3 linked regions of the Homo sapiens genome follow. The protein of the gene in region 1 purifies or fractionates together with the protein of each later gene. This does not show direct contact. Each region holds a gene or a part of one and is shown in the gene's direction. Other genes may lie near its edges.

Evidence for each region.
Region 2: the proteins of ZNF207 (region 1) and SRSF11 purify together in Homo sapiens (affinity purification with mass spectrometry, with the first as the bait; one study listed by BioGRID). This does not show direct contact.
Region 3: the proteins of ZNF207 (region 1) and FBXL18 fractionate together in Homo sapiens (co-fractionation; one large-scale study listed by BioGRID). This does not show direct contact.

What each region holds. Positions count from the first base shown.
Region 1 is NC_000017.11:32,353,050-32,356,699, forward strand, and holds part of ZNF207 (BUB3-interacting and GLEBS motif-containing protein ZNF207), read left to right. Parts: intron 1-3,650. UniProt on the Homo sapiens protein: Kinetochore- and microtubule-binding protein that plays a key role in spindle assembly. ZNF207/BuGZ is mainly composed of disordered low-complexity regions and undergoes phase transition or coacervation to form temperature-dependent liquid droplets.
Region 2 is NC_000001.11:70,241,879-70,245,528, forward strand, and holds part of SRSF11 (serine/arginine-rich splicing factor 11), read left to right. Parts: intron 1-2,805; coding exon 2,806-2,937; intron 2,938-3,650. UniProt on the Homo sapiens protein: May function in pre-mRNA splicing.
Region 3 is NC_000007.14:5,479,298-5,482,947, reverse strand, and holds part of FBXL18 (F-box/LRR-repeat protein 18), read left to right. Parts: intron 1-1,016; coding exon 1,017-1,173; 3' UTR 1,174-3,650. UniProt on the Homo sapiens protein: Substrate-recognition component of the SCF (SKP1-CUL1-F-box protein)-type E3 ubiquitin ligase complex.

The sequences.
Region 1 (3,650 bases):
TGTAATCCTGGCTACTGGGGAGGCTGAGGCAAGAGAATCATTTGAACCCTGGAGGCAGAGGTTGCAGTGAGCTGAGATGGTGCCACTGCATTCCAGCCTGGGCAACAGGGTGAGACTCTGTCTCAATAATAATAATAATGACAATAATTTCTAGGTTTTTAAAGTTCTTTTAATAAATAGCGAGAGCATTGTAATTTATATTTTTTAAGATCTAGTAAGTACCTTCATGTCTCATTCAACATTATTCTACTTTGCTTAGTCCTAGAGCTGTCTGAATTTTTGCTAAATTAGACCTTACAGAAATATGAGATGAGCAAATACCAAATCATTGGAAACTACTATGGGTGGGAGGTAGGGAGACGTGATTTCTCCAGGTTTAAAGATAAATTTATATAGATCCTTTTCACTCCAGATACTTTAACAATAATTTAATATTCATTTTAAAATGTTGACCAGATGTGGTGGCTCACGCCTGTAATCCCAGCACTTTGGGAGGCCGAGGCTGGTGGATCACCTGAGGTCAGGGTTTCAAGACCAGCCTGACCAACGTGGTGAAACCCCATCTCTACAAATACCAAAAATTAGCTGGGCATGGTGGCAGGCACATGTAGTCCTGGCTACGGGGGCGGGGGGAGGGCTGGGGGCGGGGGGCGCGAGGCGGGTGCTGAGACAGGAGAATCACTTGAACCCGGGAGGCAGAGTTTGCGGTGAGCTGAGTTTGTGCCACTGCACTCCAGCCTGGGTGACAGAGACTCTGTCTCCAAAAAAAAAAAAAAAAAAAAAAAAATTGTTAGAGAACCTACTACATGTTAGACTCACAGCTGTTCACTGTTGCAGCCATTAGTTACATGTGGCTATTTAAAATGATATAAATATCTAAATGCTCAGTTTCTCTGTCAAGTAGCTAACTTATATTGGGTAGTGTGGATAAGAACATTTTGTTTTGATTGATTGACAGGGTCTCATTCTGTTGTCCAGGCTGGAGTGCAGATCATAGCTCACCGCAACTTTGAACTCCCTTACTCAAATGATCCTTCCACCTTAGCCTCCTGAGTACCTGGGACAACAATTGTGTACCACCATACCTGGCTATTTTTAAAATTTTATTTTTGTAGAGACAGGGTCTCACTATGTTGCACAGGCTGGTCGCCCAACTCCCAGGATCAATCGATTCTCCCACTCGGCCTCCCAAAGTGCTGGAATTACAGTTGTGAGCCACTGAGCCCGGCCATTTTCTTTAATTCTGAATGAAATAGGGGTTTAAATAGAGATGTATGCTCTGTCAGTTTTTTTTTTGTTTTATTTTGAAACGGAGTTTTGCTCTGTCTTGTGCTCACTGCAGCCTCCGCCTCCTGGGCTTAAGTGATTCTTGTGCATCAGCCTTCCAAATAGCTAGGATTACAGGCATGCACCACCGTGCCTGCCTGAGTTGTATTTTTAGTAGAGATGGGGCTTCACCACGTTGGCCAGGGTGGTCTTGAACTCCTGGCCTCAAGTGATCCCATCTACTTTGGCCTCCCAAAGTGCTGGGATTACAGGCATAAGTCACTGCAGCTGGCCTCTATTAGACTTTTTTTTTTTTCTTGAGACGGAGTCTCTTTCGTCCAGGCTGGAGTGCAGTGGGCGTGATCTCGGCTCACCGCAGCCTCTGCCCTCCGGGTTCAAGCAATTCTCCTGCCTCAGCCTCTCGAGTAGCTGGGATTACAGACGCCTGCCATTGTGCCTAGCTAATTGTTTTGTATTTTTAGTACAGATGGGGTTTCACCATCTTGGCCAGGCTGGTCTTGAACTCCTGACCTCCTGATCCACCTTCCTTGGCCTCCCAAAGTGCTGGGATTACAGGCGTGAGCCACTGCGCCCAGCCTGTAAGACTTTTTAAAAGGATTTTTCTGGCTGCAGGGTTGAAAGTAAAGTGCAGAGTACGGTGAGACCACTTTAGAAGACTTAGAATATTCCAGACAAGAGGAGATGGTGACAGAGACCAGAGTTTGATAGGTTAGATATGGGGTATAAGAAAAAGTGAGGAGTTAAGGGTGGTCTCAAGATGTTGATCTCAAGATGGTCTGGCTAGGTGCGGTGGCTCACGCCTGTAATCAGCACTTTGGTAGGCCGAGATGGACTAATCACTTGATCCTAATAGTTCGAGACTAGCCTGGGCAATATAATGAGACCCTGTCTCTACAAAAAATGCAAAGTTGGGCATGGTGGCACGTGCCTGTGTCCCAGCTACTCAGGAGGCTGAGGCAGGAGGATCGCTTGAGCTGGGGAGGACGAGACTGCAGTGAGCCGTGATAGCACTACTCAGCTCCAACTTGGGCTACAAGAGTGAAACCCTGTCTCAAAAATGTTTATTTTGAGCATATGACGAGATGTGAAAAGCTACAGGGATAATAGGCTTAAGAATGAGAATAAGGGAGTCCTGTGTTAATTTTGAGTGTAGGTATGTTTGAGGTCTATTAAATATCCAGATGAAAAGGTTACCGAAGCAGTTTGATGTACAAGTCAGGAGTTCATAGAAATTAAAACAGGAGATAGAAATTTGGACGCATACAATGTAAGGGTGGCTAGTTTAAGCCGCGCTACCAGATGTCCTTTGTAAGGACTGTAGTGTGGTTGGAAATTAGGTGCTCTCTGCTCTAGGCCACTTCCAACATTTGAAGGTCAGGAGATTAAAAGGAATCGTCTAAGGAGATGAAAGGTAGGAAAACCAAGAGTAGTGCCCTGGAAGTCAATGACGTGTTTCAAGGAGTGAGTTATTTAACTGAGTCAAATGCTGGTTCAGTAAGAGTACTGAGACTGGGTTAATAAGGTCATTGGTGACTTGACAAAGAGCGATTTCCAAGAGTGGTGAGGGTGAAGTGTGATTACGGTGCTTTGAAGAGACAGGGAGAGGAAGCGAAGGCATTCTTAGGGAGTTGCACTTTATGAAGAGCAGAGAAGTGGAGTGGAAGCTTCAAGGTTAGTTGAGAAACTTAGTAACATTATTGTCTGAGTGCCTTTATTTAGTCCTATTTTCACAGCAACCTGTGAGATAGACCTGGCAGTTAAATCATACCAATTTTATAGATGATAAACCCTAAGACATTATTAGTAAGTTAGGTGGTTCCCTGCAGTTTCTCATCAGTGCTTGCTCCTGTCTTTTCAACCAAGACGCTATGACTTTGCTTGGCAGGGTCCCAAGAAATCTAATTCTGGCTGTACCATAATAGATACACCTTTAATTGTTGCCCTTCTCAAAAATGTAGTGAAGATTAGTGTGTATGTGAATGTAATTGTTTATAGAATGCCTGTTGCATCATCTCTTTATTAAGAATAGCAAAATATTCCAAAAAACCTTAGGAAACGGCAATTAAGTCACTTGTTAAGCCGCTTTATCCATAAATATTTTAATTGCAATATAAGGAATAGCTTTTAACAATCAGATATTAAGATAATTTCTGAGTTTGATTTGCATGCCCCAGTTTCAAATCTTTAAGTGAGATACATTGCTAAGAAGAAAATACTTAGCTTTTTGTAGTTACTTTTCTGTTCGTACATGAAAATGTCTTAGGAGGAAAGAAAAAATGAGTATTATTTGGGCAAATATATCTAAGTCATTAGCCTAAATGAGTGCTTCTCAAACTTGAGCATGCATTAGCATTTCCAGAAAG
Region 2 (3,650 bases), on another chromosome or scaffold:
GAGAGCCTGGGCCGGGTGGGGTGGCTCACGCCTGTAGTCCCAGCACTTGGGGAGGCCGAGGCGGAGGATCACAAGGTCAGGAGATTGAGACCAGCCTGGCCAACATAGTGAAACCCCGTCTCTCCTAAAAACACAAAAATCAGCTGGGTGTGGTGGCGCGCGCAGCTGTAATCCCAGCTACTCAGGAGGCTGAAGCAGGAGAATCGCTTGAACCCCGGAGGCGGGGATTGCAGTGAGCCAGGATGGCGCCACTGCACTCCAGCTTGGTGACAGCGAGACTCCGTCTTAAAAAAAAAAAAAAAAGGGAGAGCCTGTGTCTTTTTCTTTATATTAAATCTTACTGGGACTCTCTCATTTTAATATTAATTACTTTACTATGACCAGTGAAAAGTAGAAGTGAAATATGTCCCTGAATCCAGATACTTGTAATACATCGTAACAGAAATCATTGTTGTGGGTTGTGGTAACCCTCACCACACACACACACCCCCCACACCCCACACCCCCACCAGGCTCAAGCCATCCTCCCACCTCAGCCTCCTGAGCAGCTGGGACTACAGGCATGCACCACCACACCTGGCTAATTTTTGCACCTTTTTTTTTTATGTAGAGACAGGGTTTTGCCATGTTGCCCAGGCTGGTCTCGAACTCCTGAGCTCGAGCTGTTTGCCCACCTCGGCCTCCCAAAGTGCTGGGGTGACAGATACAAGCCACTGAGTCCAGCCCAGTTGTAGTATCAAGCATCACATAGTGTGTTAAATGACCATGACTTTCACAAGCTTTTTGACTTTATTAAAAATATGTTACACTAATCTCTTTTGCTGGTTAAAAGCTCATATGAACTAGTAAGTGTAGAAAAGTGACGGTAGTACATTCCCCTTTGAAAACAACTGTTTAATCTCTTAAGGTTATGATTCTGATATTTTATATGCCTATATTTCATTCAAAGTATATTATTGGTGCCTTTTATTTAAATCAGGCAGTGTAGTAATTGCTCAAGAATACAGTCATGAAAAGACTTACTTCCCATGTCTTTGTGGAGCCTATGGTAGGGTAGTTAAGTAGATAAAAACATCTTAGGATGTGGAGATGTTATTGCAAGGAATTGTTTAGTAAATAGTTTCAAATATGGCTGAAAATAAGAGATTAAAATTAAAGTTAATTGAGTTCAATAACTCAAATAGTTTATTGAGGCATTACTATGGGTTTTGAGGCAGTTGTTTTAGGGAGTTATGGCAACAGAAGCTATATTAGTACATCAGTAAGAGGAAAGAAGGACATCAATATTTAATGTACAGTCCCCTCCGTATATGCAGGGGATTGGTTACAAATCCATCTATACCAGAATCCATGCATACTCAAGTCCTCTGGAATCCACATATAGGAAAACTCAGTCCTGACTATACATGGGTTCCTCATCCTTCAAATACTGTTTTTAATCCACATTTGGTTGGTGGCAAAAAAAAAAAAAAAAAAAAAAAAAAAAAAAAAAAAACACAGTGTGTAGGTGGAACCATGCCGTTAAAGCTCATGTTATTCAAGGGTCACTTGTGTGTGCCTACACTAAGGCACCGAGCTAGACTCTATATACTGCATTTAATCTTTGTCATTATTTGGTGATAGAGGTGTTACTATCCTTGACTGCTGAAGTAACAAGGTCAGAGAGGTTAGATAATACTCTTAAGTTACCTGGCTTATAAATGAGAGTTTAACACAAGTCTTTAAGATGTCCATACTCTTTCTTGTACCTTGAAAAGAAAAGTAGGCAGAAAATTTAGACTATATTTGAAATGTTGCACAGAGAGAAGTTGAATGGTCACTAAAAGTTAAGTGATCAAGACTAAGCAAAGGATTGCAACTTATTTTTAATTTTTAAAATAGAAGAGAATGGGCCGGTTGTGGTGGTTAATGCCTATAATCCCAACTCTGGGAGGCCAAGGTGGGCTGGTGGCTTGAGCCCAGGAGTTCAAGACCATCCTGGGCAACATGGCAAAACCCCATCGCTTAAAAGATAGAGGAGAATGAGTTTTAATGCAGTAGGGAGGATGACAACATCTAAAGGTTAATTGTGCTTCTTAGTCCTGGAAGAGCCAGGTCAGGACACAATGGATGGGGGCTCGGTGCAGGGAGTAGAGAAACAGATATGTCAGGGAAAAATGAGAGTAAAAGAGGCAGTTTATACAAATTGTATATATCTGTAAAAGGTCTGCATTGCCTGGAGTTTCCTAAATTGTGGATTAAAGGAGTGGAATTTGTTTCAGAGAAAAATTCGAAATAGGAGATGGCAACACAATAAGTAGTTTCTCTTTATAAAATAGAAATAATAGTGGCATTTACTTTATGGACTTACGAGACCAATTTGTAGTTTATATATAGCGTGATATAAGTATTTGATTTATGATGAGGAAGGTTTAAGCTGCACTAATGAGGAATCAAATAAGAAATACATGCTAAAATGCTATATAATTGTATAAGATGATGCAAATAAGTCATACTTTTATTCTCCTTCATGATCTAGTAGTATTTTTAACCTTGGAGTTGTAAGTACAGTGGGCATAGAAGGACCTATCTGACAGGTTGAGCAAATCATTAAAAGGTGAGGAATTCCAAGTGTTAAAAGGTATTACTAATTTCTAAGGTGTTGAAGGTGTTTGTTCTATGGGCTAAATAATAGCAAATGGAAGGGAATTATCCCCCATTTAATTGTTTAGTCCATATGTCCGAATCTTTTGTCTGATACTAAGCACAAAATTTATAGTCTTTTTACATTTATACACATGTATTGGCTTCCTTTTACACTATTAGGCGGTCAAGAAGCAGATCGAGACGGCGGTCACATTCTAAGTCTAGGAGTCGGCGACGATCCAAAAGCCCAAGGCGGAGAAGATCTCATTCCAGAGAAAGAGGTAGAAGGTCAAGGAGCACATCAAAAACAAGGTATAGCATTGGGTGAGAAAGCAAATTTTAGGGTTCCCAGTACCCCTAGTACTGTGCTACTTAGTAACAAAAGAGGTGGTTGGGGTGCGGGGCAGAGAAATAGGGCTAGACAGGGGAAGAAACTGTCAATATTTGAGTTTGAGGAGGCTGACGTTTGCTTTCTGGTGCTTCCTTGTAAACTGAAACTTCAGCTTACAGCTGAGGGCCTAAGTAAAATTTCTTAGTAGTAGGAATTGTTAGCTGTCCTGCTACCTTCTTTCATAAGAAATACCGTAACGTTTTATTTCCATCTAAAAATATATTCAAAAACCAGTCTTTTCGTGTAGAACCAAACACTTTTAAATTAGTATGCCCCCAGTCATTTATAGTTGTGAGGCATACAATTTCACAGCACTTAATTTTTTTAGCAACTGCTTTTTATCTCTTGCTAAAATATTTATCTTAATTTTCTAGAAGCAACTCTATATTTGGCATTATTTTGTTCATTTATATATTTAGTTAAATCATGTCATTAAAGTAAGTACAGCTGGGGACACAACATAACTTACTCTTGGGAAGCATAAAACTCAACTGATGAGAACAGAAGAGTGGGGGTAGCTTTACTATCATTGTTAAACCTGTAATAATGGGGCTTTTAGTCCTTATGTGCTGCAGAGTGAATCAAACAAGGTAGATTAATAGAACAGTTATACAAAGGAATTAAGCATTTCTTT
Region 3 (3,650 bases), on another chromosome or scaffold:
TCCTGCCTCAGCCTCCCAAGTAGCTGAGGTGACAGGCATGCACCACCATGCCTGACTCATTTTTTAAAATTTTTTATAGAGACAAAGTCTCCCTATGTTGCCCAGGCTGTTCTGGGACTCCTGGCCTCAAACAATCCTCCCACCTCAGCCTCCCAGGTGTTGGGATTACAGGGGCAAGCCACAAATGCACTTGCATTGCATTTTGGCCTAGGAGGGCCAGTAGGGCTGTGCTGGTGGCCTGCTCTGACTGTGGAGGGGTCCCTGTTCTGCTTCATGGCCCGCTGGGGGACTGTGGTTGGTTGTAGGGTTGTGGGGAAGGCAAAATGAGGTCATGTCTGTCGAGCTCAATGCAGCGTCTGGCACTCGGTGGGCACCCCGTGGCAATTGTGCATGAGTTTTCGTGCACAGCGTGGCGGGGGCTGGTCGCCTGGGGGTGGGGGCATTGGGGGGGGGTCGCCTACCTGCCATTTGTCATGCGGTCAAACGTGTGCTTTTCCTGAGTGGCCACCTGGGTATCTGCTCCTCCCAGCGACTGCTGCTGCCTCACTGACTTGGCAGTCGCACCCCCTTGAGGTGGCCCACCTGCGGCTGTGGGGTGTGGGCACCTGTCCCTTCTCTCTGTCCTGGCCGTGGGGCTTCCGTGGGCCAGGGGCCTCGGATCTGCCACTCCTGCAGTGGGGTCCCTCTGCTGCCCTGGGGCCCAGCAGCACGTCTGCAGAGCAGGGTTGGCCTCCGGGGCCTCTGATCCTCGTGGCTGGCATGGAGCGGGTGCCCCCTGAGCCTGGAGAGAAGCGTGTGGCCTGTTCCCGGCTGCCGTGCTCCTCCCCAGCTCTGTCTGCCACGTACAGGGCCCTTGAGGCACTTAGAGGGTGACTCTGGCAGGCATGGTCTGTCTGGGAGCCCCAGGTGAGCCCGGGACGGGGAGGCAGGTGTGAGTGCCTCCTGGGCTTCCCCAGCAGGCTCCGCCCCCTCCGTGGCCACCCATGTAATCCGCTGACCGCCTGTCTCTGGTTCAGCTTCCAGGCCGAGCGGCCCGCGTTAAACGTCGTCATCTTCCCTCTGCTCCACGAGGGCCTGACCGACGTCATCCGGGACGTCCCCCTGGTGCACCTGGATGAGATCACCTTATTTAAGAGCAGAGTGGCCGAGGAACCGCCGAACCTGTGGTGGTGAGAGGCGGAGCCGCCGCCCATCGGTCTCAGTCACCTCGAGAAGCTGCAGGAGCCTGGGACGCCAGGGACCCTTGGTTTGTCACAAGAGGAAGGGGGCCTCTCTCCCGGCCAGCCACGCCCCACCTGGCTCCTGGGGCTCCCGGCGTCTCCACGGCTCTCTCATGGGGACTGTTGCTCTGTGAAGTTTAGGTCGAGGGGATGCGTTCTGGGTGACATGAGGGGGCTCGGGGGACGGTCGATGTGGGGGGCTGGCTGAACCAGGCTGACCCTTGGGGCCTGGCTGGGGGGTTTGTATACTGAGCCGCAATCCCTGGGGGCCCTGTCCACGGGCCTGGAGGGCCCGAACCCCCTGCCACTTCCGACCGGGAAGCGTGTCCCTTGGCTGTTGTGTTTGTGGTCACCTGCCACCGGGGCCCCGTGGATGGGCGGCCACATGCTGTCCCCCTGAAGTCCAGTCGGCCGGGCTGGTCACCGTGTATCTGAGTGTCCCCTTGCATGGTCAAGTGTGACATGGGGAAGGGCCTGCCAGTTTAGTGGCTGCAGACTTGGGACTCTCCATCCCATTAGGACACACTTGAGCCCACTCATGTCTCTGGGGCTTTTCTAGCCAGATGATGCCTGTGGCCCCAGAGAGGTCCCCTGAGGTTGGGACTGCTGGTTGGAGCCTCTCCTGTGACTTTTCAGCCCAACCAGCAGGGCCCGTTTCTAACGAGAGAGGCCTCCTCCCCCTCCCACCCACCCCACGGCCTTCAGCTTCCCTGGGAAGGTCCATGCGCGTTCCTGGGGAAATCGATACACATTCGGCTTTGTTAGAATAACGCGAAACATTAAAACCCAGAAAGGATTCTTAAGGCTGGAGTAGCAATCACATGACCCCATTTCAAATGACTTCATTTAAGACTTTAAAAATACTCAGCTGGGCGCGATGGCTCACGCCTGTAATCCCGGCACTTTGGGAGGCTGAGGTGGGTGGATCACGAGGTCAGGAGTTCAAGACCAGCCTGGCCAACATGGTGAAACCCCATCTCTACTAAAAATACAAAAATTAGCTGGGCGTGGTGGCGGGCGCCTGTAATCCTAGCTACTCAGGAGGCTGAGGCAGGAGAATCGTTTGAACCTGGGAGGCGGAGGTTGCAGTGAGCCGAGATCACACCATTGCACTCCAGCCTGGACAACAGGGTGAGACTCCGCCTCAAAAAAAAAAAAAAAAAAAAAAAAAAAAAAAAATATATATATATATATATATATTCAACACACTTTGGGAGGATCACTTGAGCCCAGGAGTTTGAGATCAGCCTGGGCAACACAGGGATACCCCATCTCTGAAAAAGAAAGAGAAAAAAACAAAGTTATTCCAAAAATGAGGACATCCTCCTGGCATCTGAGTCCTCACCCCATGTGCCACGGTGGCCGCTTCTGCCGTCCTCCACCTCCAGGCGCTCCTAGAGCTGTCCCTGGGCCAGTGGCTTCCAAAGGGGGCTGTAGTTGGGCCCTGCTAGCCTGGACCGCCGCCCTGGCCGCTCTTGGTGAAGGGCCCCTTGTCCAGCCCGCCTTCCTCCTCCTGGGTTTCCGTGTGACAGATGCCCCGTCCTGTGGGGTGGTGTCTCACATTTGCTTTGCTGTTAAAAAATGGGGTACACCATCCCCAGGCCTCCAATCACCGGCCCTGCCCCTGAGTGGGGATGGTTTTCAGCAGCTCCTTGCTCTGGGGGCCAAGCTCCTTGTCCAGGAGGCCTTTGGAGAACTGGGGTCAGAGCTGTGGGGAGGTACAGCCCTCCTGTGCAGGCTGCCTCCCAGCTCTCCACCTGGCAGTCTTGACCCCACCCTGGCGCCTCTGCTCACTGGCACAGGTGGATCTGGGGTTTGAGGTCTCCTCCCACTTCACCCTGACTTTCTTGTATGTATGGGGTCATCGCCTCCTCTCTGAAGCCCACGGGTCCTCTCCCAGCCCCAGGCTGCACCCAGTGCAGAACCTTTGCCTCCTGGCCAGAGGGACCCTTCTGCAGGCTGATTCCAGCAGTGCCCGATGGTGGGACCCACACCAGACCAAGCCTTCGCCTCCCAGAGGCCTCCTGGCCCTCCTGTCATGGCCTGTGAGAGCCACACCCCTAGGCCCCGTCTCCTAGTCTGCAGGCCGCAGGACCAGCTGCCCACGGCCCCAGGGGGCAGGGGCTGTAGATGAGGGTCTCAGAGGTGGTGGGAGCACCCCCCCCACCCACAGTTCCTGGGCATTTCTTTAGAGCTTTAAAATGGCACCTGGAGACCACCAGGCGCGGCGATCAGATCGGGTGGTGTGGTGCCTCCTGGGACTGACCACTTCTTGCTCTCCGACCAGGCAGGGGCGAGTGGCCTGGGAGGTTCCCGGACCCTCAGGGGGCCTGTGTCTCTGGGCACCGCAGCTCCGCCCCACTCCTTCCTCCAGAACATTCCCCACTCGGGCTAGAGAATTGCGTCTGCTCCAGGAATGCATCCTAGCGT